7 linked regions of the Homo sapiens genome follow. The protein of the gene in region 3 purifies or fractionates together with the protein of the main gene of each other region. This does not show direct contact. Each region holds a gene or a part of one and is shown on either strand. Other genes may lie near its edges.

Region 1 (3,853 bases), on a different chromosome or scaffold from region 3:
TAGCAGTAAAAAGAGATTGACTTTATACAGTCAATACTGTATAACAGTAAATACAGTTTCATAAATTTGCAAAAGTATTTGATTGGTTTATTTAAATATTTACATAATGGTAACAATACCAATAGCAAATACCTTATATAGCCCTTACTATGTATTAAGCATCGTGTGTGTGTGTGTGTGTGTGTGTCGCGACATAAAGGCCTCACCTAGATTAACTCATTTAATCCTCACAATACTCCCATTTGGTGAGCATTATAATTAGCCCCTTGTTCAGACATGCCTCTTTGAAGCACAGAGAGGTTAAATAACTTCCCCAAGGTAACTCAGCTCCCAAGTGAGGGAGTCAGGACGAACCCAGGAAGCCTGGTTCTGTGTCTCATGTTGGTCACACTCTGATCTGCTGTACTATATCAAAGGATTGGGTGCTTTGGGGATAAGGTTATTCAATTTGAATTTCTGTTGAATATACCACATTTCGCAAAGTTATTTCTGCTGAAATGGATTATGTTTTTATTCTCAGGTCGATTTAGTAACAGGGTTAGCCATAGAAGAAGCTTGTTATGCTCAGGTATGTAATGCAATCACAAATTCAATGAGGATGACCCTTACAAATTATATTTACCTTCTGTATAATTCAAATGAATTTCACTGAGCAAGATTACCCTTGCGCCCATTCCAAAATCATACAAATGGGTTGAAATTAGTTGTTTCTGCTATTTGTTACCAGCTCTTATGACTGATTCTGTTCCACAGGAATGCCTCTTGTCTATATAATCTAGAAAACTCTTAGAGTAACTGAGTCAGTCCTGGGTGTGCAGGAGCTGTCTCTCTAGGCTTATGCTTTCTTTTGTGGGATTGGTCCTGGCCTCCCACTGCAATGTAGAGAGGTAGAGGAGAGTGGTGATGAGCGTGTGCCTGCCATGCAACCTGGGGTGAGACTGCTTGGCTTTTCCTGAACCTCTGATCTGTCTCTCCTGACCACTGAAAGTTCACTAATGAAATTATAGTTTTATTTTTTACACAGTCGGCCCTTTTCATCTGTAAGTTTTGCATTTGTGGATTCAACCAAGTGTAAATTGAAAATATTCAGGAAAAAAAAAGATGGTTGCATCTGTACTGAACATGTACTGACTTTTTTCCTTATTATTCCCTGAACAATATAGTATAAGAACTGTGTACATGCCATTTACATTATATTAGGTATTATAAATAATCTAGAGATGATTTAAAGTATACAGGAGGATGTGCGTAGGTAATATGATATGCAATTTTATTAATATATAAGGGACTTGAGCATCTGCAGATTTTGGCATCTGCAGGAGGTCCTGTAACCAATCCCCTGCAGATAACTGAGGGATGACTGCATACAAATTATTAGGTCTTCCTGGAGAGGAAAAAAAAAATGTTTTCCCTTTTTTGTCTTTCTCTGAAAGATAGAACTTTGTTTTAGGGCATCTGAAATAGCAAAAAAGTTTTGTTCTACCTTTCCTGGGAGTTGGAAACTGCATGAGCACTCGTTTAAAGGAGCAGTATCTAGAGTGTGACTCTGTGCCCAGCTTGTATATATAAATCACCACCTGTCATTGATGAGTACGTGCCATGAGGAAAGTGAATTACAAACGTCTTAGAAATAGCCTCAGAGCCCAAAGAAAAATTTTAAAAGCACATTTGGCCATAAATTACAACTTACTAAATGTAAACACCAGAAATTATTCAAGGTATTCTTCAGACCACAATGGAATTAAACTAGAAATCAATAAAAGAAAGACTGCTGGAAAAACCCAAAATATTGGGTGATTAAACAACATCCTTCTAAATAATGTTATATGTCAGAGATGTCTTGAGGAATTATAAAGTATTTTGAATTAAAATGAAAATACAACTTCTCAAAGTTTGTGGGATATACTGAAAGCAGTGCTTAGATAGAAATAGCATTGGATGTATATAATAGAAAAGAGAAAATATCTAAATCGATAATAACCTTCCACCTTATTAGGAAACTAGAAAAAGAAGAGCAAAATGGGGTAGAGGACCACTTGGAGTAAGAAGGATGAGTTTGGTTACATAATTAGGAGAATTGTTCAGGTGACTGATTTCAAAATTTTAGAATGTGGTTCTAAGTAGTTTTCTTAGATAGTGCTTGATAAACTTTTACAGTTGTTTTAACATTTTTGACATATTTAATATTTTGTTTTTCTTAGACCATTCCAACAAAAGACAGACTTGAAGGTCTTCTTGCTTTTAAAGAGAAAAGGCCCCCTCGCTATAAAGGAGAATAAAAGGAACAGAAATTCTTAAGATGCCAATGTAATAAATGTACTTCCTGGAAGTGTCTTTCGGATCCACTATATGCCTCAGCACATGGAACCTTAATGACCAAAGTGAAGAGCAGATTATTCATACGGTGTAATAAGCATCTGGAATGGACCCATCCGTGTACTTCATTCAAATGTGTAAATGTCATATTCATTCAGATTTATAAAGCTAGTAGTGTATAGTCAGAAACAGAATCAAAGTTAGATATACATTTTTAAATATTTACTGCATATGAGGCTTTCTGTTAATTTTTTAATGTGAATAATTTATATATTGCACATTCTAGGGAATAATATTGATTGTATGTCTACTGTGCTGCATTAAGAAAATAAAATTTCTATATACCAAAAATGTGAAGTTATACCAAATAAAGTTTCTAAGTGATTAATGCATACGAACAGCTACATATACATATATCTAAACCTGAAAAATGAATTGATATTCTGAGTGAAAACTACCTAATATAAATAAAATTAGTGAAAAGAAAACATGGGAATTTTTCTCTTACCCCATTCTTTTTGAATTGACTAAATCATTGCATGCTGGACTTTAGAAGAAACAACCCTTTCATTGCTGCTTCTATCAGGCAACCTCTTTACATGGTCAGTCCTGTAATACAGTATTGAAGGTGAAGAATGAATCCAAAGACTGAAGCCAAAGAACCAAAGCGGACAGGAGACCTAGTGCAGTGGGACTTGCTGGGACCTCCTCCCAGCAAGTGGTGTGGTCGCCGACTGGCCTAGGAAAGGCGATGTTTGCACACAAAGGAGGAAAGAAAATGGGGCAGCCAGGATTGGAGCATGGAAATGGCTTGGGGTCATGGATTAAAGTGGAGACTGTTCTCTGCTTCCCTACCCTCTGCTATTTGCCTCCAATTTCTGTAAGGGAAAGAGGTGAACTTAACAACCCTTTGTCCTAACAAACACCTGCCTTCCTACCCAGGCCAGGTCAAGAAGCTGTAAACGGCCTCCAGGTTGCATGCCTGAGTAGCCACACCTGGGGAGTAGGCACTGGTGGGAGTTGTGTGGGACATTGGGAACTGGAGAATTCGCTGTGGAAAAAAGGAGAACATTCTGATGCCTTTAAGTAATTTGAGATAGCTCTACTTTACATTCATTTTACCAAACCACCCTGCCTTCCTAGTTTGTGTCAGGTCTGAGTCTGGTCATGCCAGAGACAACGTCCCCGGGAGTGCCCCTGCAGCAAGCTTCACTGTGGTACAGCCCAGCTGTGTCCCTAAGGTGTCCTCCTTTCACATTTCCATGTATCAGATAAACACCCATTTTACTGTGGATTTACATCCTCATTGTGGCGACTTCATTGCTATTTGAAGGCATGTAGGCTTCATTTTTTTAATTCTGAAACTTACATTTTTTAACTTAGGAATTTGAACTCAACCTCAATTCTAAAATTCTTATAAGAGGCAAATGTGGACTGGCTGGCTGCTGATGTCTGTCCTGACAAAGGTAGGCGGTGTCTTCACTCATGTTTGGACACTAAGGTGAGCGCTATTTTCTTTATGACCTTTGGTGCTGAG
Region 2 (3,803 bases), on a different chromosome or scaffold from region 3:
TCCATCTCAAAAAAAAAAAAAAAGAAAGAAAGAAAGAAAGAAAGAAAGAAAGAAAAAATTATTAAAGAAAAAGAAAAGAAAAGGTTGAGAAATGGGCTCATTGGCTTCTGAGGAGAGATACTGGGATGTCTCGGCCTTGCTGATGGCATTACCCCTTCCAGCTGCCTCTCTCCAGAATGATCTCAACCAGGGTGGCCCAGGGAGCACTAATTCCAAGAGGCAGGCCAACTGGTCCTTGGAGGAGGAGAAGAGCAGACTGCTGGCTGAGGCAGCACTTGAGTTGCGGGAGGAGAACACGAGGCAGGAACGGATTCTGGCCCTGGCCAAGCGACTAGCCATGCTGCGGGGACAGGACCCCGAGAGAGGTGAAGGCTGGGGAGCAGCTGCTCACTGGTATCCCTTGGTCAAGGCCTCCCTGGCAGGGCTGAGTCAGGTGCTGGGGGTATTTGCGCCCAGAGATCTACTGAGCCCAGCCCAGAGCCACAAGGAAGGTGGTAGAGCAAAGCAGTGGGTGAGGAGTCAGGGGCAGCCATGAGGGCAGGGGACCTTCAGTCCATTCAGGGGCTGAGGCTTTCGCTCCAGCCCCCAACCTAGCCCTCAGGCCTGCTTCAGTGATGGCCCAGCCCTGCAGGGCTGGGGCAGGCAGGGACAGGTCATCAGGGTGGCTGAAGAGGCTTCTCAGCTCTGGAATAAGTGCCCCTGGGAACCGAACCAGTTCTGGGAGGCAGGAGGGCAGCCACTCATGTGAAATCTCTCACTCTCACTCCCCCATCCCCTGTTCCCATGTCTCCCTCTTCAAGTGACCCTCCAGGACTATCGCCTCCCAGACAGTGATGACGACGAGGATGAGGAGACAGCCATCCAAAGAGTCCTGCAGCAGGTGGGCCTGGATTACCCACCTGCCACCCCTTGTCCCGTCTCCGCCTCATTGCCCCACCTCTACTCTGGGGCTGGGTGGACAGTAACTGTGAAGCTCCTGTTCTCTTTGGGCCCCCTCCTGTGACCCAGACCCAGACCTGCCCACTGGTCCCTGGAGATAGGGAATCAGCAGCCACAGGCCACAAGTAAAGAAAAAGATGAGTTTGAGAAGCTAAGTCCACAGTGCACAGAAATACTGGGAGATGGAGGGCCTGGGCCTGAAGCAGGGGAGTAGTACATCTTCACCCTGTCCGCAGCTCACTGAAGAAGCTTCCCTGGATGAGGCAAGTGGCTTTAACATCCCTGCAGAGCAGGCTTCTCGACCCTGGACGCAACCCCGCGGGGCAGAGCCTGAGGTGAGAAAAGCCCCAGATGCAGACCCCCAGGCTCCCCCCAGCCTTGCTTCCTGCCTGGCTGACTGCTCCTGCAGCAGCTCACATACCCCACTGGGTACCTTACTTCCTCCATTCCTCTCTGATCCCTGAAGGCCCAGGATGTGGACCCCAGGCCTGAGGCTGAGGAAGAGGAGCTCCCCTGGTGCTGCATCTGCAATGAGGATGCCACCCTACGCTGCGCTGGCTGCGATGGGGACCTCTTCTGTGCCCGCTGCTTCCGGTGGGTGCAGGTGGAATGTTCTGTGCGAGAGCTCAAGGGCTGCCTGGATCCCTGACTTGTATCCCTTTGTTCCACAGAGAGGGCCATGATGCCTTTGAGCTTAAAGAGCACCAGACATCTGCCTACTCTCCTCCACGTGCAGGCCAAGAGCACTGAAGACACCCTGGTCCTCCCGGAAGGGCAGTCCCACAGGCAGCGGCACCCATTTCTGGGCCCAGCCACAGGACGTCCGATGGGAGAGCTTGTCTGGCTCTACTGATGATGGATAGGCCCCTTCCTGAGCCTTGGTGTCCCTGGAATGAGGAAAGATTCTCCATTCGAGAGAATGACTGGGAGGGAAGAAGTCGGGGCCCTCCTATTAGAAGCCCAGACTGGAAGTGAGAGGCATGATGGGGAGAGACCAGACTGAATCTACGGGTGAGCCCTGTAACCTGGCTCTAGGGCACAGGCCCCTCCCCTGGCACTTAGTGGGTCTAATAAAGTATGTTGATTCATTGGGCCCAGCATCTCATTTCTACAACCCTATGAGCCTGGGCCCTGTGAGAGGTGGCAGGAACAGAGCAGGCTGTAAGCACAGTTGTGGGGAATGGGGGAAAAGGTTGAGCCATCCTATGAACTTCTCCAGGCAGGAACAGCCCTACCCATCCTGGTGGCCTCATACGAAGTAAACATGTATTCATTCAACTCAACTGTGCTCCAGCTCTGGGCAGCCCCACTTAGCCACCAGTCCCCACCATCTTGGATTTCTCAGCCTCTCTACTACTCACACAATGCACGCAGGAACAATGCACACACACCCTGCTTCCTGCCTTACTGGCAAAGGACCCCAGCTCCTAGGGCTCCTGTCCCAACCTGCCTGCCATTCAGTCTCAGTATCTCTCTTCCAGTAATGCGCCCTAACCGGACCCCTGACCTCTCGGCATGTACCCTTTACATGCCTCTGCATTGCCTCTGCTGTTTCTCTTCCTGCCCCTGGCTGGAACCAACTATAAAGAGCCCTCGGGCTGAGGTCTACCTCCTGCATCACTTTTGGTTGGAAGAGCCTTTTCTGAGGCTCTCAGATCCAGCTAGGTTTTTCCTGTTACTTCCTCTCTGGGATTTGAAACTAGTCTTTGCCATTGGCGTCCCTCTTGTTGGTTATGCCAGTAGGCTGTGTACCTTAGGCAGATAATGTCTGCTTGGCCCCGAGGCCTTGCTAGATTGTGATCTCTCTGAAGTGGAGCTGTGACTTTCGTCTTTGAATTCTTGAGTCCTTTGGATGGATGGATGGATGAGGTGTGTGGGCACAGCCAAGTGACTTAGGTTGTGGCCTTCCTGTGTATCACTTCATTCTCTCCTCCCCTGTCCCTCAGCACAGATATGTTCCACACTCCATTGAGCTGGGGCTCCTAAAGGTTTTATCCACTTGGCTGCCAAGGAAGGCATTGGACAACAGCCAGCTTTCTCCCAGAGAGCCCAGCTGACAGAAACTAGCTGTGACCACACAGACAGTAGGAGTATGCAAATGTCCCTCCTTGTCCACATTTCTTGTTTGTGTCCCAAGGAGCTATTTCCCTCTTAGCCAGGATCTGGAGTTTCAGGGCAGGCCTGGCAGTGCTGAGGCTGCTAAAGATGGTCTCTCAGGCTTATTTCTGAGGCCGGCTGAGTCTCCGGAGTTTCTTGAGTTGACTGAGCAGCTCAGAGATAAAAGCCTGAGGGAGAAACAGGAGTGAGACCAGGCTTGGGGTCACAATTCACCCCCCACCCTGCCCTCCCTAATCTTCCCCTGCCCCTGACTCCCCAGAGAAGGGAGAAGGACCCACAGCCAAGCCTTCCCTTCAAATACTCCTCATTAGCTACCTCCCCCATTGGGCCTCCTCTTACCCCAGACCAGCAGAAGAACATCCCTTACCTCTGTGGGGCGGGGGCAGTTCCCAAGAATGGCCTAGATAGGAGAGAACACAGACAGGGCCCCAAGTCACAGCACTTTCCCGCAAGTCCCCACCAATCTCCCAAGAATTCTCCCCTCTGGATTGGTTCTCTGCACTCCACCAAAGGAGGCAGAACCTGGGTTTCTGGGTTCCCACTGACCCAAGGCCAGCTTCTAGCCCCCATCCTACCTCCAGCTGAGTCTTCTGCTCCTCTGTGGATAGATCCATGAGAGCTTCCAGGTCAATCTCAGGCTCAGAAGGGGTTGCTTGATCCTATTTGGAAATCACATGGGTCTCAGAGGGGCCTGACCAGCTGGTGCTGGAATGAAGGTTACTGTCAGGGACTCAACCCACCTCTCT
Region 3 (5,355 bases):
TGGGGGCTGCCCAGGGAGGGGGCTGGGTGGCCTTGGCGGGTCCCTGTGAGGTGCCTGCCCCCAGGAGTCACATGGAGGGAAGCATCGCACGTGGTCTCACCTCCTTCATGTCTTCATAGAAGAGGTAGAGAACAGGGTGGGTGCGGCTCAGCTCCCACCACTCCTGCACGTGCTGGTACCAGGATCCGTAGGACACTGGAGAAGCAGGCAAGGGGTGCCAACACAGGGTTGCTGTGCGTTGTAGCCACCACCCCTTAGCTCCACACTTTCCTTCCTCCCATCAAACCCACCTTCTCCGACCATGAACTTCTCCAGGAAGCTGTCCCAGGTCCCAGGCTCAGGGTGCACCTTGGCCATGTGGTAGAAGTGGTAGTAGGAAACTGCCACATCCTTTGCGTTGCGGGCAACATAGACCACCTGCAGGGGCAGAAGACTCAACCCCAGCACCATCACCACACAGCCTGTCCCAGGCCAGCTCATCTCTTGGATTGGCAAAGGAGGAACCTGAGGCTTAGAGGCTGACTTGTTTGAGATCTCACGGCACCGGTAGGGCCAAGTCAGGAGCTGAACCCTGCTCAGAAGCCAAAGTCCTGCCTGGTCCCTGAGACCATCATATTCTATAGTAATATAATCTGCATCAATGCGTCACACCCCAATCTGGAGCAAGGCATGCTCCACCAGCCGTGATCCCACCGCCACCAAATTTTGTGGGCCTGTGAGGACCCACCCTCTAGCTTTCTTAGGTCTACACTGAAGAGTCTTACGTTCTTGGTCATCAGAGCAAGAGGCAGACAGTCCCCGCCGCAGAAGATGAGACAAGGCTGGAGGAAGTGAGGCGACTTTCCCAGAAGAACAGGACCAAAGCTGGGCTGAGCCAGGGCCTCCTTCCCTGGATTCACATGCCCCACACCTGGACCTTTGCTTTTTCTTTTTATTGTGGGATTTATTTTATTTTATTTTATTTTATTTATTTATTTTTGAGACAGAGAGTCTCAAAAAAAAAAAAAAAAAAAAAAGGACCGTGGTCTTTCTTTTTTTCTGTCGCCCAAGTTGGAGTGCACTGGAGTGATAATAACTCACTGCAACCTTGACCTTCCAGGCTCAAGCAATCCTCCAACCTCAGACTTTCCAGTAGCTGGAACTACAGCGCTATGCCACCATGCCCTGCTGATATTTTGCATTTTTATAGAGATGGAGACTCCCCATGTTTCCCGGGCTGGTCTGTAACTCCTGAGCTCAAGTGATCCACCCAATTTGGCCTCCCAAAGTGCTGGCATTACAGCAGTGAGCCACCACAGGTGCCACAGTTTTATTTTTATTTATATATTTATTTATTTATTTATTTTTGTGAGTTTTGCTCTTGTTGCTCAGGCTGGAATGCAATGGTGGGATCTCTGGCTCACCACAACCTCCTTCTCCCGGGTTCAAGTGATTCTCCTGTCTCAGGCTTCGGAGTAGCTGGGATTACAGGCACCCGCCACCACACCCGGCTAATTTTGTATTTTTAGTAGAGACAAGGTTCTTCTATGTTGCTCAGGGTGCTCTCAAACTCCCAACCTCAGGTGATCTGCCTGCCTCAGCCTCCCAAAGTGCTGGGATTATGGATGTGAAACACTGTGCCCTGCCTCACCTTGACCTTCTGATCCAACAGAGTCTGGGGGAGCAGAGCCAGGGGCAGGTGTGTCTTCAGGAGTCGTGGGGCCGGTGTGTCTTTCAGAGTCTCCATCCCTGAGCAGTGGGTCAGGGAAGGTCTGGTGAGCTGAAGCCCCAGCCCTGTCTTCCTCCACTCCCCTTGCACCCAGGACACACTCACACACCTGAGGGAATCCCTGGGGCTTTGAACTCAAGGAAGGGCACCCGCATGAAGATGGGAGCTCGGTGACACTTCTCCAGGTCACCACCCTGGTAGATCATGTCCAGAATCTGGCTTACCCAGGTAGTGCCTGGAGAGGGAGGGAGATGGGAGGTGAGCAGGCTGAGGGCACGACCTCGCTGGCCAAGGTGGGGACTGCCACCTGGGAGAGGGTGGGTGGCCCTCCTCACTTACCGGACTTGGGGTAGGTGCTGATGAGCAGGTCATCAGGCCGGGCCTGGAAGCTCTGCAGGGGCCCCAGTGCCTCTGCAAAGTACTTGATGAGCGGGACCCCCTTCACGTACTCCAGTGGCGGGCGGGAGGTGTCCTGGATCAGCTCCATGTTCCTGCGTCAGGGGCCAGAGCCAGGCCCGTTCCCTTACCACCATCACAACAGCAAGAAAGTGGAATTCTTGCTTTCAGGGAAGTCACTGAGGCCTAGGGAGGCTGAGTGACTTGCCCGCACTCACAAAGCCACTCAGTGGCGGGGCTGGGGCTGAAAACCAGGTCGGGCTCTAATGCGGTGGTTCCCCAGCCTGGCCTCACCTTTCATTCACCTGCGGAGCTGTTCAAAATCCCAGGGCCTGGGCCATGGTGCAGACCAGTGAAAGCACCCTCGTCGGGCAAGGCCCAGATGTCAGGGTGTGTGAAGGTCTCCAGGAGAGTCCAGCTGCACTGAGGAAGCTCTAGGACCTTCCTGTGCTGTCTCCCTGCCAGCCAGCGCCCTTTGTCTCACCACTTCCTGCTGGGACCCCCAGCCTCCACCCAGTGGAGATGCTCCCCTCCTTGAGCCCCTCAGCCCCTCACATGTGGAAACCGCCCAGGCCAGCCAGGCCTGTGATCCACTTGCCTGGCCACAGTCCATCTGGGCTCCAGGACAAACACGGCCCATTGAGGAACTGAGCTGCTACTAGGGGCCAGAGCTGCTGTGGGAATGAACAAAACTCTGATGACTCAGCAAAAGCACAGGCCTAGGCAGGGTGGCTCCCACCTATAATCCCAGACCCTAGGGAGGCTGAGGCCAGGAGTTGGAGACCAACCTGGTGCAGCATTGCAAGACCCCATCTCTAAAAATCTTTAAAAAAATTCTTAAACATTAACCAGGCAGGATGATGAGGGCCTGTAGTCCTAGCTACTCCAGAGGCTGAGGCAAGAGAATCACTTGAGCCCAGGAATTCAAGGCTGCAGTGGCCAGGATCCCACAGCACTCCAGCCTGGGTGACAGCAAGACCTGGCCTCCCCGGGGAAAAAAACAAACAAACAAGGGAAGGGAGGGGGATTCACGCAGGCCAGGGTTGTCTGAAATGGGATATCCATGGGGAAAGGGCAGGGATGCCAGAGGCCTCAGCTTCTGGAATGTTAGAGCCACAAGCTGAGCAGGGTGAGGGCGCCCTGGGCCGTTCCACTGTGTCACTCACCTGAGCTCTTGGGAACCTGGCCTCGTGCCCTCCTCGCCCGCAGTGGCTGATTGTGGGTGTTGTGTGGGGAATGCAGGGTTGTTCTCTGAGCTGAGGGTTTCCTAGGTCCACTGTGGGAGGGATCTGGAGCCGGGGCTGGACTTAGATTTGCTTCCGGAAGGAAGGGGTGGGGTTGGGGGTGGGGGAGCTTCTCCATTACCCTCCTTAGTGTGCCAGCTGGAGACAAGCTTAAAGTGATCTCCAAAGCCACGACTGAGTTTGCTGTGTAGAAAACAGAAGAATGAAAGGGGAAAGGCCCAATGGTGGGTTTGTTTTTGTAGGTTTTTTTTTTCTGTTTTTTTTTTTTTTTTTTTTTTTTTTCCGAGCTGTCACTGGGCTCCTGACCTGCCCCTGAACTCCACCCTGCCAGGCAGCCAACAGACAAGCTCTCTCTAATTGACCCAGGCAAGAGAGGGGAGGGATTGGAGGAGAAAGCTGGGATAGGCAGGCCCTGGAAAGGTCACCTACCTGCTGGCTCCAGGCCAGTCTTGAAGGTGCCAGGGGTTCTGGCCCAGTGCAGCCCACAGGCCCCCAGCAGCCCATGCACTCCAGGCTCTGACCACAAGGCCAGTCTAGAGGGATGTGTGTGGGCAGAGTGAAGGGGCAGGGGTGGAGCAGAGCATGGATGCATAGAACAAGAAAGAACAAGGACACTGCAGTCCCATTGCCCTGGGAGTCAGCCCCAGCTTCATGGCTCCTGGGGACCTCAGAGAACATTGATAGAAGATCCTAGAAGAACCACAACCCGTGGCAGGTGGTTTTATTTCCCTGGGTTTGAAGGAGGCTCCACAGACAAGAGACCAGAGGAGGCCGAGGTTTGGAAGCCACAGGGCCCCGTGGAAGGGGGGCATCCCCCCATCCTCCTCGTTCTTTATCCTCACTTTAAAGTCCAAGGTCAAGCTGTGCACGAGACAGGTAAACAACCATCTGAGTAAAGGTGAATCTCCCAAGACTTCCAAGAAATGCGTGAGTTCAGAGGCAAGCGGACAGGTGGGAGTGTGGGGGAAGCTGAGGCATGGGAATTCCAGGCAGAGGAGAGGCTTCTCATATGCTAGGGCCATGGACCCCTCCTCCCTCCTCTGTGCCCATGAGGAATCCCCGTGACTGGCAGGTCCTCAGGCTACTAGCTCCACCCCTGCCCTCAGCAACCCTCAGGAGGTTCCCTTGACTAAGACTTTGTATTGCACTCTAGTAACAACCTGTCGGACCCACACGGGGTGACACAGAAAAGAGGCGAGAATGTGAGATTAATAGAGTGGTAGCAAGTGAATACAAAATCCCAGGCAGCAGTTTCACATGAGGAGAAGAAGGAAACTTGAAATAGCTGCATGCGCTAAGGGCCAATAAGTCCCTGAAAAATAGGATGAGGACCAAGCTGGCTACGACCAACCAGACACAACATGGCGCTGTATTTGATGTAGGTTTCACCTAGGATCTCATTGTATGATCAGTAACATATGAAACCGTACACCCACCAGTGCCAAGACGGCTCCAGGAACACCTGTATTTGGGTGTAAATTGTGGCACCACGGTCTTGAGAAATCTTTACCTTTTCCTGGACTCTTCATGAATATACCCCTCTTTAGTTGAAGAAGCCCATAAAGGTCAGCCCCACACCTTGTAGGGCATGAGACACTCTCTTGAGGACCCCCACGTTCCTCTTCTTCAGTGAGTCCCTTTACTCTGCAGGAAATCTGCCTACATTCATGACTTTTGCACTTGTCCTTAAATTGTTTCTGGCTAAGGTGCCAAGAGCCTGGAGAAGGCCTGGCACGGTGGCTCACTCCTGTAATCCCAGCACTTTGGGAGGCCGAGGCAGGCAGACCACCTGAAGTCGGGAGTTTGAGACCAGCCTGACCAACATGGAGAAACCTTGTCTCTACTAAAAATAGAAAATTAGTCAAGCCTGGTGGCACACGCCTGTAATCCCAGCTACTTGGGAGGCTGAGGCAGGAGAATCGCTTGAACCCGGGAGGCGGAGGTTGCGGTGAGCCAAGATCACGCCATTGCACTCCAGCCTGGGCAACAAGAGTGAAACTCGGTCTC
Region 4 (4,555 bases), on a different chromosome or scaffold from region 3:
GGGAAATTCTACCTTTTTAAGAAGAGAACAGATCTGTTGCCGCACTCCTGGAGACTGGCTGTTAAGATTGTATGTAATAAAGAACTGAATCCACTGCATTTCTTCCATGGAAACAATTTCTGTGCTCCGATTACTTTCACAAAGCAAGCCTAATGTATCTATCCTTACCTAAAAAACATCAAGCAATAAAATGTTAATTTTCCAAGAAATAAGCAAAGCCTAAATCACTTGAATTGCTTACTTACATAGGCTACAAAAGGAAAAAAGTAAACTTCAGTTCACCAATAGGTACCTCAGAAAGGTTTCCTAATCTCAAAGATCCTAGGGTTATTTCCTATACAATTCTTTTATTAAACATGTAAATTGGGGATTTATAAAATGCAACAATCTTAAAGATTTTTATTCCGTGGTAATGCTCAGCTTCATTCCTTTTTCTTTTTTTCCAGTGACCCCTTTTACCCCATCACCTCACTCTTAAATTACTGCCAGACACTTCTAACTGGTTTCCTGGTTTCTTTCTGCTCCCACTCTGGAAACTCACGTTTCCACTAATGTAACTCCTTGCTGAAAACAGAGTAGCTTTGGTTTAGCTTAGTAAAACCAGCTGGTGCCTGGGAACCAACTAAGTCTTTAGCCTAGCATTAGGCCTTTCCAAAAAATGTCCAAAACACTCCACCCCTGATAAGCAATGTTCTTAATCATCCTCCAGACCTTGCTCATTTGGGTCCCTCCATTTTGTATGCTGCTCCAAGGCTTCCTCTTTTCTAATCATATCTATCACTTTCCTAATCAAGCACCACCTGCTCTGATCAGTCTCTTCTGAGCCTTCCAAGCGAGTCCTTATGTATTTAAGGGCACATGATGGCATGCTTGTATCTGTATTGTCAGTTCTAAGAGTTTCCAGTTGTTTTATGTAAGTTTTCTTACATCCTCAACTAAACTTTCAGTAGCTTGAAGAAAGGGCCTACTGAAAGTTTAGTTGGGAGACTAGGGTTTCTACTCATTCTCTTTATGAACTCCCTAAAACAGTTCAGGATACAATGTAGGGGCCTCTATATTGAACTGCTACATGAAAGGGATCTACTGCATGTACAAATCCAGGTAATTTTCTTTACTTACTTGGCAATGCTGATGAATTAAGCCTTGCTTTATTCTTGCATCAGACACGAGGTTCTCCCAGGTATCAGTTGCAGACTGAAGATGTCCATGAGCTCTAGCTATTCGCAGACATGCCATCAAAGCTCCCAGAGCCCCCCTGCTATTACAAGACCCTAAGGATGGGAAAGATTGCTCTTGTCCTGAAAGCACAATAACAAAGACCATTACTGTATTATGCAATGACTACTATAATTATCAGCTGCTAATTTTCATGTTTCCAATTAACATTTTATTTCAATAAATAAAAATCACATTTTAAACTCATTTCTAACACAAATTAAAGTTCCTATTCTAAAATAATCATTATTTAATATGATTTGCCCTTTTGTCAATCATTTCAAGTAAGCATAATTCTCTTATCGTTAACATAAACAAATCATTATTTACCTGCTAACATTTTTGCTTTTTCCCTAACACCTAGAAAGGGAATCAGGCAGCAAATCAGGAAATAAAATCAGGTGGAGAAATAAGCACATCAGTGGCTACAGACTATTACTTCTCTAAAAGTAAACACTGAACCTCTCTGCATATTTTAGAGTGGCTGTTTCTCACTAGTAAAGATTAAAAAAGGAACACAAAGAGCCTGCTGGTTTCAGAGGCTAGGACGTCAGCCATTACCAAGAAGACAGGGCAGCTTGATATAAAAATAAAGACAACCTTACTTCAGAACAGATTCTTGAATCCTGAATTTCAGATGGCTTTTCAAAAACTCAAGAACAAGTGTTGTCAAAAATTACAAATAATGGCTTATTTTTGCATACAGGAATCAAATTTTCCTGCTACCTCATGGTTACTCTTTGAAGTACTGAACGTTTTTAACAATTTTAGTTGAAAATATTTCTTAAAATTATGCTGTACGATACTACATTCTTGCTTTGTTAAACAGAATGTAATAATTTTAAGATTTATATGATGTGTCATGATCATCACTTTACACATCCTGAATTATGCTTGAATGCAGTGATTCCTGTAGGGTTTGTGAGTTTCAATGGGATGTTTACCCCTATTCTAAATAACTATAGATGGCTATTTCTTGAGATCATGCCTCTGAATTTTGTCACTTCCCCAGAGAAAAAAACTTGCTACTGCCAAGTTACCTGTCTTTAACCTTGCCTAACACAATTTTTAATTATTGTCTCAATGACTTGAATAAGCACATTATATAAGACACACAAACTTTTATTTCAGTGATACAATAAAATAAATTCAGAACTTGAAAAAATGAATTAAAACCTTGTAATACAGGAAAGTTTATCATTTTAAGTGGAATTATTCTTTAGCTTGTAGAAATGACTTCAGCCAAAAAACTCCATTCAGCTATATATAGGAACATTCGTTTCAAACTGAAACATCTATCATTAATCTCTTCCTTTACTATTTATAGAAGTGATATTTAAATTTGAATATGATTAGTATCTGCATAGCTACCTACATTTAAGCATCATAATTAGAAACTACTAAAACAAAAATGCATTTTTCTTACCAGTTTTAGCATCAATAGAAGTCTGAAGAATCTTTACCATGTACTGTAAGCTTTCAGGGCTGTAACTTAATAATTTTGGCAAGTAATAATCAATCACGTAAGATTTTTGATCCAAGTTTCCTTCACACAATATAAAAAGGAGAGGAGAAACCCAAGTCTCATGCCACTGGTCAATCCAAGAACTCTCAGCAGTCTGGGATTTCAAATGACTCTTATGATTTCTAAACATGGTTTCCAAGAGGTCACTTGCATAAGGTACCAATGACTGGTCTCCCATCACCTCTAAGATTTGAGATGGAATAGTTTTATCTATAGCCAAAATATGTTCAACTCCTATGCACTCTACCAAACAACCAAGGCACGTGTACTTTCCTTTAATATGCCATTCCAATCGTAAAAGACTCTCAGTCAATTCCACAAAGAAAGGATCAGGGACGAAATCTGCACCTTCCACAGTGAGCCGGTGCATTTGGAGAAGGTTTTTGAACATGATTTTGGTTTGGTGTCTCAGAGCATCCAATGGATGTTCCCAATGGGTATAGACATATTCCAAAAGTCTCCCAACTATACTTGAATTCCCATTCAGGCTGTCCGTTAGGCTCGGGGAACTTGATTCAAGGACTTGTATGGCTGAATTAGTCCAGGATGCTAAGATTCTAGACAGAAACATTTCCAGCGTTGGCTCTTTAATCCTGAAGAAAAATGAGCCATGAGCCATTATTGTAAACTGATTAGTAAAAGAAATTTCATTTTATAACAATTTAGACTTTAAAAATATTAAATACACAGAATGACCACAAATTTCAATTATTAAATTTACAAGAACAAAAAACTACAAGTAAAGCCAAAACAGATCTCAAATTTGTATATGATTCTTTTTACCTTGTAAAAAATAATCCAGAAAGCAGTTCAAGATCAGCCTAGGCAATATAGTGAAACCCCATCTCTATAAAAAATTTAAAAATTTAGCTGGGTGTGGTGACACACACCTACAGTCCCAGCTACTTGGGAAGCTGAGGTGGGAGGATTGCTTGAGCTCAGGAGTGAGACTGCAATGAGCTGTGCTCATGCCACTACACTCCAGCCTGGGTGACAAAGCGAGACTTTGTCTCAAAAATAATAATAGTCCAGGAAGGGACATAGGGAAATTTGGGGGATGATGGAAATATTCACTACCTTGACTGTGATGATTACACAAGTTATTTATTTATTTATTTATTTGAGACAGGGTCTTGCTGTCACCCAGGCTGGAGTGCAGTGGTGCGATCTCGGCTCACTGCAACCCCTGCCTCCCAGGTTCAAGCGATTCTCCTGCCTCAGCCGCCTCAGTAGCTGGGATTACAGGCGCATGCCCCCATGCCTAGATAATTTTTTGTATTTTTAGTAGAGACAGGGTTTCACCATGTTGACCAGGCTGGTCTTGAACTCCTGACCTCAAGTGATCCACCTGCCTGAGATCTGCAAGCCTGGGATTACAGGCTTGAGCCACCATGCCCGGCCTACACATGTAATTTAAAAGATAAGGAAAGCCAAGTGTTGGAGATGGTTGGGGGAATGGGGCTTCTCTGTGATAAAAATATTCTAAAGTTGTTTGAATTAACTTTTAAGATGTTAAAACTTCATTTCAGAAATGTTGATAAGGATCACTTTAGATTACCTATGTTAAAGTGCTTCATAAATTCTAAAGCACTACACATGTAGAAACTTTTATAGTTTTAAAAAATGATGCTAAAAACAAATTTCAGGAAAAAAATTTTTAAAGAAAAAATATAGCAAAGAGAATATTAAAAATTAATTTTAGAAATGCTGGTGGTTGTACAACTCTGTGAATAAACTAATAAACTGAATTGTACACTTCAAATTTATGAATTGCATAATATAGCTCAAATATGTAAAAAATTATTTTAGTTTTCC
Region 5 (4,555 bases), on a different chromosome or scaffold from region 3:
CCAGCTAATTTTTGTATTCTTAGTAGAGATGGGTTTCACCATGTTGGCCAGGCTGGTCTTGAACTCCTGACCTCAGATGATCTGCCCGCCTTGGCCTCTCAAAGTGCTGGGATTACAGGCATGAGTCACCGTACCCAGCCAAATGGTTTTTTTGTTTTTTGTTTTTTGTTGTTTTTTGAGATGGAGTCTCACTCAGTCACCCAGGCTGGAGTGCAGTGGCGCAATCTCGGCTTACTGCAAGCTCTGCCTCCCGGGTTCACACCATTCTCCTGCCTCAGCCTCCCGAGTAGCTGGGACTACAGGCGCTCACCACCACGCCTGGCTAATTTTTTGTATTTTTAGTAGAGATGGGGTTTCACCATATTAGCCAGGATGATCTCGAGCTCCTGACCTCGTGATCCGCCCGCCTTGGCCTCCCAAAATGCTGGGATTACAGGCATGAGCCACCGCACCCAGCCGCCAAATGGCTTTTTTAAATCGTAAATTACTTTTCTTGATTGAAGTTTTATGCAAAAATTGATCAGGATGATACCTACATGCCAGGTTTTTATATTTGAAACACATAACAAACTGAGCCTTAAAAATTCTGACTAAGCAGACTAGTATATAGGTAAAGAAATATCTAGAAAATGGAGTATTGTGCACAAAGTTTAATTTGGAAATAAATTTGTAAAATAAACTAAAATTAATTTTAGAAACCCTAACTTTGTTTGCTTTGACAATACAATGGAAATTATCAAGTTATAGTTAGAATAGGGGGAGACAAATAATGGTTGTCCTGAAAAGAACCCAAACTCAGACATTAGAGAGTCTTGAGGAGGTTCCATAGTGAATGTTAGGAGCATTATTAGCCTGTGAATCTGATTGGCTGGATTTGAATCCCAGCTCTGGCCACTAGCTGTGTAAGCTGAGATAGTCCCATTGTTGTAAGCCTGAGTGAAAGTGGGGATAATAAATGCAATGCCTGCCACATAAAGTTATGACGTCAAATAGTATACATTTGGTAAAGGCTCACAATTCTTATTATAGTTATTACTATTATTGTTTTACCATTATCATTATCATCATCATTGTTTCTCAAGGCAAAATCTAGCCTCCACCTCTTTATCTGTGTGACCTTGGTCTTTGCTTCTCCAAGATTCAGATTTTCCAGAGCACTGTTACCTCCATCCAGGGTCATTGTGAGGATTAAATGAGAAGTTTATACAGCACCTAGGTCAATGCTTTGTTGATAGTAACTGCTTTTACAGGTTAGCGCAACTAATAAGTCACTAACTCCTCAGCATTATAACATAGGCTTAATAAGTTTAACACCAAGTTCTTTCCTTGGGTGTAAGTTTAGCCTTAAAAGACTTCTAAAGATTTTCCAAAGTTAATGTTCTGTAATTAGCATATATGTAATCAAATAGGACTTTTATGTATATCTCATTCTTTCTTTATAACTTAAATATATATTATCTGGTTACAATTTAACACCCAGTTCTTTCCTTTGGTGTAAGGTTAGCCTTAGAAGACTTTTAAAGATTTTCCAAAGTTAATGTTCTATAATTAGCATATATGTAATCTTATATATTGAACTTTTATGTATATCTATTTCTTTCTTTATAACAAGTATATTTTACCATATCTGTATGTTATTACAAAGTAAATTATCATTATTTTTCAATTAAGAAGAAAACTAAGACTGTAGAACATTGAATGATTTGACCTCCTCAGGTACCTTTTGGTAGGTCTTCTGACTGCAAATGCTGGGTTCCCTCTGTTAAATCATACTACTTCCTGAGAAGAAATAAAAGATAAAGTGGGAAAATTCTGCATCTTAGGCAAGCTAAAGAAAAGTGGTTTAAAAATTATTGCCACTTCAAAAATAACAATGGCAGAATAGAAGGTATCTATTTTTATCACCTCTTGGGATCTTTTTGTGGGGCCAAGGGGAAAGCAGAAAGATACTAAAAGAGATGTTCATGTCCCTTTTTATTCATTTTAATTATTAAAGGGAACAGTGGCTTTGTGATTAATGACTGCTGTTCAGTCTATTTTATATCTTACAAGGATCTGACAGTTTTGTTTTACATTTTATAGCTGCAGCTTATCTTCTGGTGTCCCTTATACCAAGCAATTCATTCCGTCAGATGTTCCGGTCAACAAGGTCTTTGCACATCCCAACCCGTGACCTTCCACTCAGTCCAGACACAACAGTAGTCCTACATCAGGTCTACAACGTGCTCCTTGGTTTGCTCTCAAGAGCCAAACTTTATGTTGATGCTGCTGTTCATGGCACTACAAAGCTAGTGCCCTATTTTAGCTTTATGACTTACTGTTTAATTTCCAAAACTGAGAAGCTGATGTTTTCCACATATTTCATGGATTTGTGGAACCTTTTCCAGCCTAAACTTTCTGAGCCAGCAATAGCTACAAATCACAATAAACAGGCTTTGCTTTCATTTTGGTACAATGTCTGTGCTGACTGTCCAGAGAATATCCGCCTTATTGTTCAGAACCCAGTGGTAACCAAGAACATTGCCTTCAATTACATCCTTGCTGACCATGATGATCAGGATGTGGTGCTTTTTAACCGTGGGATGCTGCCAGCGTACTATGGCATTCTGAGGCTCTGCTGTGAGCAGTCTCCTGCATTCACACGACAACTGGCTTCTCACCAGAACATCCAGTGGGCCTTTAAGAATCTTACACCACATGCCAGCCAATACCCTGGAGTGAGTAAAATTGATACTCTTTTATCTGTATCCTCAAATAGATTGGAAATACCTGTTTTTCCCCTGGTGGGAAGTGGTGGCAGAATATAGAATAGTCTCACCATTCTTTCTTAAGAACTTAATGTGTATTTGTTTTCTTAAATACATATATAAAATGCTGTGTTGTTATAAAATTGATAACTGTGTAGATAACTTTTCTTAGGGTGAAGTTAAAGTTGCATATCCAGTAAAACTTACCTGTTTTTTAATTTGTGGTTTTGTAAATGTATTCTTCATGTGTGCCTAATGAAAAAAGCCAGCTTCATGGTACAGTTTTAAGGAATTGAGTACTTTGCTATTTAAAAATCAGATACTTAGCAAAATCTACATGCTGTGGTAAACTGTGAGCTAGACAATTTTATATCTAAAACTAGTAGTATTCCGCAGTATTTTTTCTCAAGCTGCATCCAAACAAATGAAATGCTTAAGAGATCAATCGAGATACATATATATGCAGTCTAAATTGGGTCCCTTTTACTCTGCACACTTACTTGTAGGTTTTATATTAAGTTTCCTCCCCTCGATGTAAAGCTGTCAAACCTGGTTAATAACTTTTCACTGTTGCCTCTTATTCTCTGTTGTAAACTGTACTTTAAAGACAGACCGTCCTTTATAGACGGTCTTTTTTTTTCTAGATGGTGTAATGAGTTGTATAGAATCTCACACCTGGGAAGAATAACCTAATTTCTAGTCAGAGAAAATTAGAATCCCAGGCCGGCATAGTGGCTCACACCTGTAATTTCAGCACTTTGGAGGCAGAGGCGGATCACTCGAGCCCAGCAGTTCAAGACCAGCCTGGGCAACATGGCAAAACTCCATCTCTACAAAAAATACAAAATTAGCTGGGAGTAGTGGTGTGCACCTATAGTCGCAGCTGCTTGGGAGGCTGAGGTGGGAGGATCGCTTGAGCCCAGGAGGTTGAGGCTGCATTGAGACATTGTACTGCACCCTGGGCAACAAAGCAAGACTCTGTCTCAAAAGAAAAAATCAGAATCCCTACAATGCAGGAAAGAGAGTGAGTGTACAAGTACCAAGAAATTGAAAACCAATGCCATAAGAATACAAAATATCAATCTTTCTGACTTCAAAGGGGTCGGGATAGGATTTATTAAGTTTCAGTAAATTTGTCTCTATCATATTCACATAAATAATATTTGATCTAGTTACTAGATGTGATGTCCAGAATTAAATATACTTTGACAAGTACTAGATGAGTTAGAATTTATCCCTCCATGTTATTTATTGCCCTTGACATCAGTGAAATGTAATGTCTTTTATTGTAGAATGTCCTTATCTATTAGAAATTTTCATGAAAATGGTACTTAAGTCAGTTTTTTGCTTTGAAAAATAAGAAGCTGGGGGTTTCAGTTCATTGACAAGTATGTGTTAGAAGAGCAGTCCTCTCCTGACATGTGCATATGAGTCTATAAAATCACAGCTAGTGATTTTACTAAAATATTTGTTTTTACTTTTTATTCATCAGGAAATTGAACTGAGCATCATTCTAGAAAAGCATTTTAAATGTTGGAACAAAGGTTTACCTCATATACACTATTAATTTAAGGGTTATTTAGGCATTTAAAATCTTTGTGACAAAGTAATGATTTCTCATTAATTAAAGAAAAAGTGGATAGGAGATGGTGTGGCATGCCTCTGGGTTTACATTTGAAGTTACAAAAGTAGTGCTTTAAGCAGTAATAAGACTAAAAATGAATTGTATTCACTTACAGTTTTTACTCTTTCTAAACTTGTATTTTAAGATTTGTTGAGTTCTTTTAGTGTTTATTATTATTGTTATT
Region 6 (4,555 bases), on a different chromosome or scaffold from region 3:
ACCAAATTATTCTAAGAGTATTTCTTCCTGAATACCATGTGAGAAAATTCTTAAGAATTTATTGAGTATGACTGTATATTTGAAAAGAGTGTTTTCTTCTGCTTATCTAAGCCAATAAAGGATCTTCATTATTCAATTCTAACTTTCTAAGGAAGTCAACCTACAGATCAGAAAGAGGATCTTCAAGGAATAGCATCAAAGACATAGTCAGGTCTCCCATGCAGTGACTGGCTGACCATGCAGCCATTACCACCTTTCTGGAAATATTATGCTGCAAAAATGATACAATACACGAAATATCTCAAATTAAAAAATATAACATTTCCCAAATAGGGCACTAAAAACATGATCCCAAATAAAACTAGCTTCAGGGTTTGCAGAATATACTGTTACTCAACACAAAGTTGGACTAAGTCTCAAAGTTAGCCATTCAGTTGTTGTTAACAGTTCATTTCAGGGTCTCTCAGAAGCTGGGAAACTTTCCATTTTTGCAATTTCTTGTACATTGAAGGAAAGGAAGACACACTTAAGACAGCATTACAAAAGTAATTCATGTTTTAAATGTTTAATTCTGGCAGTCGGGCAGGGCTCTCTGTATAACCTCATTTGGAGATGACAAAAATCTAAACTTGAGGGCCTCGAGCCAATAAGTCTTCCTATTTCTTTACTCAAACATTTTCCCGCAATGGTGCTTTCTTTCAACTGTTTTTCTGGTGTATTCATAAATTCCAGATTCTCTATGGGAAGTAACTTTTATTGATTGATTTAACCCTTGTATAGCACATATAACATGCAAGGCATTGTTCTAAGAACTTTCCACATATTAACTGTGTTAATCACTTAATAATCCTAAGTAGGTTCTATTACAGATATGGAAACTGAGGCACAGAAAGTTGAAGTATCTTACTCAAGGTCACACAGTTAGTCAGATCCAGAATTTGGGCCCAGGCCATCTGGCTTCGGAATCCATCTTTCACCGATTGCTGCTAGTCTCATATCTGTTCCATGTTAGAGGTGAGCTCCCATTGCAGAGGTCACACCTGTGATATCACCATTTTATTTAAACAGACCAGAGATGGTCTTCTCCTTTCTGATCACAGACTCACCTTGAAGAGAAAATACTTCCAAATTGATGCCTAGTTTTAATAGCTTACCTGGGGCTTATTCAAATAATTGCCATGATTTAGGCTTTGGGAGAAAGAGAGCTATGAGGCCGTGTGGGTTGTAACGTATGAGACACATGGCGTTCTGCAGGCTCAGCACAGCATCGATTTCTGGTGGGAACACACTCTGATGACCAGTTCCAGAAATAACATTGACTTAATCTCCTCAGTCCCATCATGGTTAGCACATTTCAAAATGCCTCCTTAACTACTTCCATAGGCCAGAGATATTTAGTTTTAACATTTTGTTGAATAAAATAAATTTACACATTCACATTTAATATAACTATTAGATGTTATTTCAAGATTCTCTTCATATTACCATCAAAGCAGGCAGGCAGGCAGGAGAGAACTGTAGGAAGGTTTTGAATCCCTTGTGAAACATTTTTAATTATCTTTTAATAAAGGAATCAGGCCCTGTCATTTGTCAAGGAGACATTTGCAGTAGTAAAGCTTGTGTTTATAATATCCATTTTTATTAGTCATGATTAAAGATAACATTTGTGTACATTTGTTCTCACAAAACACTTTTATATGAGTGTAAAGGTTAATTAATGCATTTCAGCCATCATTTTGCTGGTCATGTGGAAATATAGCTTCTTTAGGAATTGTACTTAGAGTAGGAGCCACATATTATACTATAAAACCATAACAAAAATATTTTAAGTTTGTTCTCACTTGTTGTTGACCTCCAGAGTAAAATATTTAATACTCTGGAAAGTTATGGGTTTCAAAATTTATTTTATGGCAAGAAATAGATAATTACAGTTCTCATAGAGCACATTTAAAATAATTTATTTTTATAGGGCAAAAATATTGCCTAGGACTGAATGATTTTTTTTTTTTTACAAAGATTGTAAAGCAACGCCTGCAAGAGTGCCCATTTAGCAGTTATTCTTCTGGAATAATTGTATTTTGGATGTTGGAGTTCGCACATTAACCATTAGTACAAGTACCCAATATAACAATAGATCATCAGGATAATAAATCTGTCCATCTTTTAGTTGTATGTCTTTATATCAGGATAAAGAGAATTGAGTGAAATTTATCTAAACCTAGTCCCACAAATACTTTTACAAGAGAGCATGTTAAAGTGTAAATTAAATTTTTATTAGCATTCTACTCTGTCTTTGGAAGTTTTTTTTCCTTATGAAATGCAGCCATAAAGTTTAACTTCCATTAACAAAGCTGCTCACAGTAAACCTATTATAATAATAGTTTCCCAGTTTGGGCTTCCTAGTGAGGAGCAACCTAACTCACACGAAACAACCCCAACTTATAATATATTGACTGTTACAAAACTGAGACCAGAAAATCCCATCAAGATGGTACTGTTATCATTTCCAGACTCTCGGGAAGAACATTAATCATCTCAGGCACTTTTAGGATAGACTTATTGCAGCCTCCCTGGGAACTCTGCTTCAGAACATAATTATTTTTATTAATGCAGAGTTACTTTTTATTTCCAACAAAAATATCTATTGTTATTATTTAAGTCTTACAGCTTTATCTGAGAAATTCCAATTAGCACCCTTCTCATAATAAATATTCAAACACATGAAAAATTACCAAAGTTGTTCTAGTCTTTTAATGACATATTACATGATCCTGCACTCTTGTCACTTTAAAAATTATCTTTTTATTATATTTCTGATGATTTTTTTCTTATATAGTTTTTTAAAAGGAGCAGGCAAGCATAGAAGACTAAAAAATGTTCAAAAGAAAAATTAAATCGCATGATCTATCTATATGGGACCTTGTCATTTTTAGAAAACATTCACCTGCTTCATCCTTTTGAATCTTCATATAATCCCTCTGAGATGGGCATACTATACAAGTTGTCTTATTTAAAGATTGGTAAATTTAAGCTCAAATAATTTATTCAGTGGCAAGCCTCAGAGGCAGACTCGGAACACAGGTCTAATATATATTATATATATATTATAACATATAATATATATATTACATATAATAAAGTTGTGTATATTATTTACCTATCAAAATATTTATATGTAATATATAAATATGTTATATATCATGTATGTGCCTATTTCATACATATATACACATTCATGCAAAATAAGGTTTAGCACTCCCTCCACTGTCCTGTAATAAAACATGCACAGTGAGAATAGTCATACACGAGGCATATTTGTCTTCAGTTTAAAGTCATTGATAGTCAGTGTCACTAACTAAAGTAAAATAGATTGGAGCACCAACTTTGTTCTGAAGCCTGTGCCAGGTATTATGAGAACAAAAATAAAAATGTTCCTCACCCTTGGTGGATTTAGTCTTTTGCAGAAAAAAAGATCCTGTACATGTCAGAAAGTTCAATAGTAATAATGGTAATTTATAACTATAAATGGAAGTCACCATCTCACAATTTCACCATCTTAACAATTTTGTTAAACTGCCCTACAATATTACAAGATAGTACATAATGATACACTAGTAACATCAACTAGGAAGTACCAAGATCCACCAAAAGGCTGAAAAATTTAAATATTTAATGAGTCCATCAACCAATCTGGCCAGAGAATTCTTTAATTAAAATGCTTCCCAAATTTTACTGAGAATCAGCAGCGTTTGAGGAGCTAGCCTCCACCCCCAGAGGTTCTCACTCTATTAGGTCTGAAGCAGGTCCCATGGATTTGCATTTCTAACAAGCTCCCAGGTGGTGCTGATGAGGCTGATTCAGAACCACACTTGGAGTAGACCTAAAACAGCAGTGACCTGTAGGGTCCCCAAGCAGCAGGCCAGGACAGCATGTGAGTTACGTCCTCTGTGGAGCTCTGCAACAAGGCGTCAAGAGGTCAGAGTCTAAGTCCCCATCAGCTCTGCCCTTCTCCACCAGTGCTGCTGGTGCTGCATGGAAGGAAGAGCCCAGAAGGGATTCTGAGTTTCAGTCTTTACTCTTGCTGACGCACCTTGGTCAGGTCAATTTTCCTGTTTGTTCCTCTAATTCAGCATCTGTAAAATAGCCATGTGAACTGCCTTGTCCATATCAGAGGGTCTTTTTCAGACTCAAGGAAAAAAACGTGAAAGTGATTAGTGTCTGTCAAGTAGTATATAAATGCAAGAAGTTGAGTTTTTAAATTGTCATTAGATATAAATACCCATGTGCATGCATTTAGAATGAGTAAAGAGGGAACAAGGAGCGCAATCAAAAACTGCGTCATTTGCTTTTTGAAAAATACTTTCTATGTAATGAAAAGTGAAATAAAATGTTAATTGAGTCCCTCTGACAACAGCATCAGACGTTTTGCAGTTCTTGTGATTAGAACCCACCTGGCCAGCCCTTCTTCCTCCTAAAGAAGAGCCTTCTTCTTCTTAAATGAAGGTTGGCTCAGAAGAAGCAATTAACTCATTCAACGTTTTGTTACAGTCAATCC
Region 7 (4,555 bases), on a different chromosome or scaffold from region 3:
AATACTAAGGAACAAGCACCAAATTTGGGAGTCACAGTTGTAAGATAAAATGCAGGGCGCCCAGTTAAATTGAATTTCAGATAAACCACAAATAATATTTTAGTGTAAGTATATCCCAAATGTTGCATGAGATGTACTTATGCAAGAGATATACTTATGATTAAAAAATTATTCATTGCTTATCTGAAACTCAGATTTAAGTTGGTGTCCTGTATTTTTCCTTGTGAACTCTGGTAACCCTTGAGTCAGAATACCTGAACTTAAGCTCCAGTTGTATCACTTAAGTAAGCATCTAACCTTCCTAGGTCTGTTTTCCCCGTCTGTCAAATGGGGGTAACGATATCAATGCGTGGTGTGGGGGTTATGATGAGGAATAAAGGAGAAATACTTCAGAACCTATGACGTGCTGCTACATGAAGATTTCAGTCCTAGATATGTGTGACTTAATATAAATTTCCACCCAAGTGCTAGTTAATTAGCCCCTGAGCCTTTGATAGTTAAATCTAAAATCCTGTAACCCATCTTTCCTTCGGAGCTTCTGGGAATGGCTGTTTAAATTATACACATAATTGTGTAACTGTCTATGAATCCAGGAGAACGGAGACAAACCCCAGGTAAATGCGAAATTTAAGCCATTCTACAGGCATGTTATTAAGTAACTGAGCTGATGAAACAATTTAAATTAAAAAAGAAAGAGAGAGAGAAAAAAGACGCCATTTAGAGCTATGCGTGACAGAGCACGAGAGAGAACTTAGTTTGCAGTAAGTGATGGCTGATAAGGGACAAGGCCAAGACTCATTAAAATGCTGGGGGAAAGCAAAATGCCTCATAAAATGTGATATCATCAGCCTGGAAATTTACAGAAAGAAAAAAATGACTGCAGAAGATGGCAGCCTTTCTTATTTATTTATTTTTAAACAGGGTCTTGCTCTGTTGCCCAGGCTGGAGTGCAGTGGCATGATCATAGCTCACTGCAGCCTTGACCTCCTGGGCTCAAGTGATCCTTCTACCTCAGCCTCCCAAGTAGCTGGGACTACAAGTGCGTGCCACTACACCCAGCCAATTCTTGTATTTTTAGTAGAGATGGGGTTTCGCCATGTTGCCCAAGCTGGTCTCATGCAATCCACCCACCTCGGCCTCCCAAAGTGCTGGGATTACTGGCATGAGACACCATGGATCCTTGATGTAAGGAGTTCGAGACCAGCCTGGCCAACATGGCGAAACCCCATCTCTACTTAAAAATACAAAAAATTAGCCGGGTGTGGTGGCGCACACCTGTAATCCCAGCTACACAGGAGGCTGAGGCAGGAGAATCACTTGAACCCGGGAGGCGGACACTGCAGTGAGCCGAGATTGCGTCACTGCCCTCCAGCCTGGGTGACAGAGTGGGACTCCATCACACACACACACACACACACACACACACAGAGTCAAGTGACTATGACCTGGGAGGATTCTATCAGACAGATCAGTGACCTGGGCCTATCCAGTCTGGGTGAATAGATGTTAACTGAATGCTGACTATGTTGGACGAGCCAGTTTCTCCATTATCTCATTTAATCCTCATAACAGAGATATCACCTTTATTTTGCAGAAAACCTAAGCAGCTTGTTCACGTTGGCATGGTTAAAGTAGTAGAGCTAGGATTTTAAATCCTGGTCTCTTTATTTATTATTTTATTAAAAAATTTTTTAAAAATAAAATATTATTATGAATAATTTTAGAGATGGGGTCTTGCCATATTGCCCAGATTGGTCTCAAACTCCTGAGCTCAAGTGATCCGCCTGCCTTGGCCTCCCAAAGTGCTGGGATTACAAGTGTGAGCCACTGCGCCAGGCCTTAAACCCTGGTCTCTTGACTACAAATCCTGACTTCGCTTCATCTTGTCACTCAGATGCTTTAGCATCTATTTTGTTATTAGGTCTGAGATAAAATGACTTTCCCTGAAAGTGTTAACTGCCCTTGAGAATCACGACAAGGCTCACAGACTATCAACAGATAGTGTAGACCTCCATAGTGCTAATCTCTTTTCTTTTCTTTTCTTTTTTTTTGAGGCGGAGTCTCACTCTGTCGCCCAGGCTGGAGTACAAAGGTTCGACCTTGGCTCACAGCAAGCTCCGCCTCCCAGGTTCAAGTGATTGATTTTCCCACCTCAGCCTCCCCAGTAGCTGGGATTACAGGCCCCCATGACCATGCCCGGCTAATTTTTGCATTTTTAGTAGAGACAGAGTTTCACCATGTTGACCAGGTTGGTCCTGAACTTCTGACCTCAAGTGACCTGCCTGCCTTGGCCTCCCAAAGTGTTGGGATTACAGGCGTGAGCCACCGTGCCCGGCCATAGCACTAATCTCTGAAATTCCACTTATGTGCTTAGTTAGGTAGAATAACTGGATAGACAGGCTGCATAGTTACTTCAAAGGGTGGAGTCCAGAAATGCCTGGAGAAATTCCAGGGACAAACACACAGACTCCAAACAAAAACCAGCCCCCTACACAGTCTGTAATCTTTCCAAGGGCATATATATGGCAATGTGTGAGGGGAATGGTTTTTGCAGAAGTTCAGGATGGACGGCAGTTAGGAGCAGGGAGAGGCTGAGGGTGGAAAGGTGGAGGTGGTTTAGGGGAGGTGCATTTTGGAGGAATGGATGAATAGAGAGAGTAATGGGGACAGAGCTTCCCACCTGGACAAAAAAATAGGATGAGGAATAACAATGGATACCGAAAATTCAGGATCTAGTTGGAGATTTTCATGCCATTTCCAGGTTCAAGGGGTAGTCTGGAAGATGTGGCTTGAACATCTAAATGTCAATTATCTGTGATAATTTGAGGTGGTAGTGGTGGTAGGATGCAGGGGAGAACCAGATGCACTATTTGAAATTTTGGGACAAATTGGTATGTTTTTGATCATTAGAAAAGCATAGCTTGGGCCAGGTGCAGTGGCTCACACCTGTAATCCCAGCACTTTGGGAGGCCGAGGCGGGTGGATCACCTGAGGTCAGGGGTTCAAAACCAGCCTGGCCAACATGGTGAAACCCTGTCTCTACTAAAAATACAAAATTAGCCAGGCATGGTGGCGCATGCCTGTAGTCCCAGCTACTTGGGAGGCTGAGGCAGGAGAATTGCTTGAACCCGTGAGGCAGAGGTTGCAGTGAGCAGAGATGGCGCCACTGCACTCCAGCGTGGGCAACAAGAGCGAAACTCCGTCTCAAAAAGAAAGAAGAAAAAAAAAAGCAAAGCATAGCCTGGGCCGGGCAAAGTGGCTCACGCCTGTAATCCCAGCATTTTTGGAAGCTGAGGTGGGCGGATCAGTTGAGGCCAGGAGTTTCAGACCAGCCTAGCTAACATGGTGAAACCCCATCTCTACTGAAAGTACAAAAATTAGCTGAGTGTGGTGGTCCGCGACTGTAATCCCAGCTACTCGGGAGGCTGAGGCATGAGAATCACTTGAACCCAGGAGGCGGAGGTTGCAGTGAGCCAAGATGGCGCCACTGCACTCCAGCCCGGGCAACAGAGTGAGACCCTGTCTTGAAAAAAAAAAAAAAAAAAAAAAAAAAAAAAAAAAGAGTGACCTTGTTTTCTCCATATTCCTCATGTAGGAAAAAGCATGACCTTTTATTACCCACAGGTCAACCTTAAGAGCTATTCTAAACTAAAGCAAGGTTCCTGTTATAACTAACTGAAATATGAATGGAGATTGATGTTAGCAGTCTCAGGCAATTCTGGAATTCGGGAAAAGAATTCTAAATTCACGTCTTCTGACGTCACAGCACTTTCCCTGTTCATGGAGGCCCGTTCACTCCTTGTACAGTCAGTTTTCTAAGGGCAGGGCGTGGAGGTGAACTTCCTCCCAGGACTGGGAGCTGGATGAACAGTGAAGAGTAAAGCCACGGGAAGCCCCAGTCACCACACTCACAGTGTAACACAGAGAAAAGACACAAGAAAAGGAGGAAATGGAGATCAAAATGTCACTGCCGCTGTTTGAATCTGTAGCTCAAGCCCCATTCAAGGGGAGCCTCATTTTTGACACAGGCTTGCTGGTTTTTCCAAATCCCTGTTGACTCTTAAGCTGCCTAAGCGGTTTACAAGGATGAGCCTCCATTCACAACAATTTCTATTTAAGGAAAAACCATTGGGGATGGGCGCGGTGGCTCATGCCTGTAATTGCAGCACCCTGGGAGGGTGAGGTGGGCAGACTGCCTGAGCCCAGCAGTTCAAGACCAGCCTGGGCAACATAGTGAAACCCTCCCGCTTCTACAAAAAGTACAAAAATGGCCAGGCGTGATGGCTCAAGCCTGTAATCCCTGCACTTTGGGAGGCCAAGGCAGGCGGATCACAAGGTCAGGAGTTTGAGACCAGCCTGACCAACATGGTGAAACCCTGTCTCTACTAAAAATCCAAAAGAAAAATTAGCCAGGTGTGGTGGTGTATGCCTGTAATCTCAGCTACTTGGGAGGCTGAGGCAGGAGAATTGCTTGAACCCGGGAGGCGGAGGTTGCAGTGAGCCGAGATTGCACCACTGCACTCCAGCCTGGGCGACATAGTGAGACTCCGCCTCA

What was found.
Region 1: the proteins of SULT1A1 (region 3) and AUH fractionate together in Homo sapiens (co-fractionation; one large-scale study listed by BioGRID). This does not show direct contact.
Region 2: the proteins of SULT1A1 (region 3) and ZFYVE19 fractionate together in Homo sapiens (co-fractionation; one large-scale study listed by BioGRID). This does not show direct contact.
Region 4: the proteins of SULT1A1 (region 3) and THADA fractionate together in Homo sapiens (co-fractionation; one large-scale study listed by BioGRID). This does not show direct contact.
Region 5: the proteins of SULT1A1 (region 3) and USP34 fractionate together in Homo sapiens (co-fractionation; one large-scale study listed by BioGRID). This does not show direct contact.
Region 6: the proteins of SULT1A1 (region 3) and STMN2 fractionate together in Homo sapiens (co-fractionation; one large-scale study listed by BioGRID). This does not show direct contact.
Region 7: the proteins of SULT1A1 (region 3) and TPM4 fractionate together in Homo sapiens (co-fractionation; one large-scale study listed by BioGRID). This does not show direct contact.

Annotation. Positions count from the first base shown.
Region 1 is NC_000009.12:91,212,774-91,216,626, reverse strand, and holds the end of AUH (methylglutaconyl-CoA hydratase, mitochondrial isoform 1 precursor), read left to right. Parts: intron 1-520; coding exon 521-568; intron 569-2,201; coding exon 2,202-2,279; 3' UTR 2,280-2,804; downstream 2,805-3,853. UniProt on the Homo sapiens protein: Catalyzes the fifth step in the leucine degradation pathway, the reversible hydration of 3-methylglutaconyl-CoA (3-MG-CoA) to 3-hydroxy-3-methylglutaryl-CoA (HMG-CoA). Can catalyze the reverse reaction but at a much lower rate in vitro.
Region 2 is NC_000015.10:40,812,538-40,816,340, forward strand, and holds the end of ZFYVE19 (abscission/NoCut checkpoint regulator), read left to right. Parts: intron 1-161; coding exon 162-365; intron 366-800; coding exon 801-880; intron 881-1,175; coding exon 1,176-1,274; intron 1,275-1,405; coding exon 1,406-1,533; intron 1,534-1,610; coding exon 1,611-1,689; 3' UTR 1,690-2,547; downstream 2,548-3,803. Other genes in the region: PPP1R14D (protein phosphatase 1 regulatory subunit 14D), read right to left, coding at 3,110-3,224, 3,425-3,457, 3,633-3,716. UniProt on the Homo sapiens protein: Key regulator of abscission step in cytokinesis: part of the cytokinesis checkpoint, a process required to delay abscission to prevent both premature resolution of intercellular chromosome bridges and accumulation of DNA damage.
Region 3 is NC_000016.10:28,606,661-28,612,015, forward strand, and holds the start of SULT1A1 (sulfotransferase 1A1), read right to left. Parts: upstream 3,385-5,355; 5' UTR 3,271-3,384; exon of another isoform or gene 2,200-3,270; 5' UTR 2,196-2,199; coding exon 2,048-2,195; intron 1,944-2,047; coding exon 1,818-1,943; intron 1,729-1,817; coding exon 1,631-1,728; intron 418-1,630; coding exon 291-417; intron 196-290; coding exon 101-195; intron 1-100. UniProt on the Homo sapiens protein: Sulfotransferase that utilizes 3'-phospho-5'-adenylyl sulfate (PAPS) as sulfonate donor to catalyze the sulfate conjugation of a wide variety of acceptor molecules bearing a hydroxyl or an amine group.
Region 4 is NC_000002.12:43,571,695-43,576,249, forward strand, and holds part of THADA (tRNA (32-2'-O)-methyltransferase regulator THADA), read right to left. Parts: intron 3,334-4,555; coding exon 2,642-3,333; intron 1,299-2,641; coding exon 1,120-1,298; intron 169-1,119; coding exon 13-168; intron 1-12. UniProt on the Homo sapiens protein: Together with methyltransferase FTSJ1, methylates the 2'-O-ribose of nucleotides at position 32 of the anticodon loop of substrate tRNAs.
Region 5 is NC_000002.12:61,212,222-61,216,776, reverse strand, and holds part of USP34 (ubiquitin carboxyl-terminal hydrolase 34), read left to right. Parts: intron 1-2,082; coding exon 2,083-2,717; intron 2,718-4,555. UniProt on the Homo sapiens protein: Ubiquitin hydrolase that can remove conjugated ubiquitin from AXIN1 and AXIN2, thereby acting as a regulator of Wnt signaling pathway.
Region 6 is NC_000008.11:79,617,072-79,621,626, forward strand, and holds part of STMN2 (stathmin-2), read left to right. Parts: intron 1-3,870; exon of another isoform or gene 3,871-3,891; intron 3,892-4,060; exon of another isoform or gene 4,061-4,133; intron 4,134-4,555. UniProt on the Homo sapiens protein: Regulator of microtubule stability. When phosphorylated by MAPK8, stabilizes microtubules and consequently controls neurite length in cortical neurons.
Region 7 is NC_000019.10:16,095,943-16,100,497, reverse strand, and holds part of TPM4 (tropomyosin alpha-4 chain), read right to left. Parts: exon of another isoform or gene 3,754-4,555; intron 1-3,753. UniProt on the Homo sapiens protein: Binds to actin filaments in muscle and non-muscle cells. Plays a central role, in association with the troponin complex, in the calcium dependent regulation of vertebrate striated muscle contraction.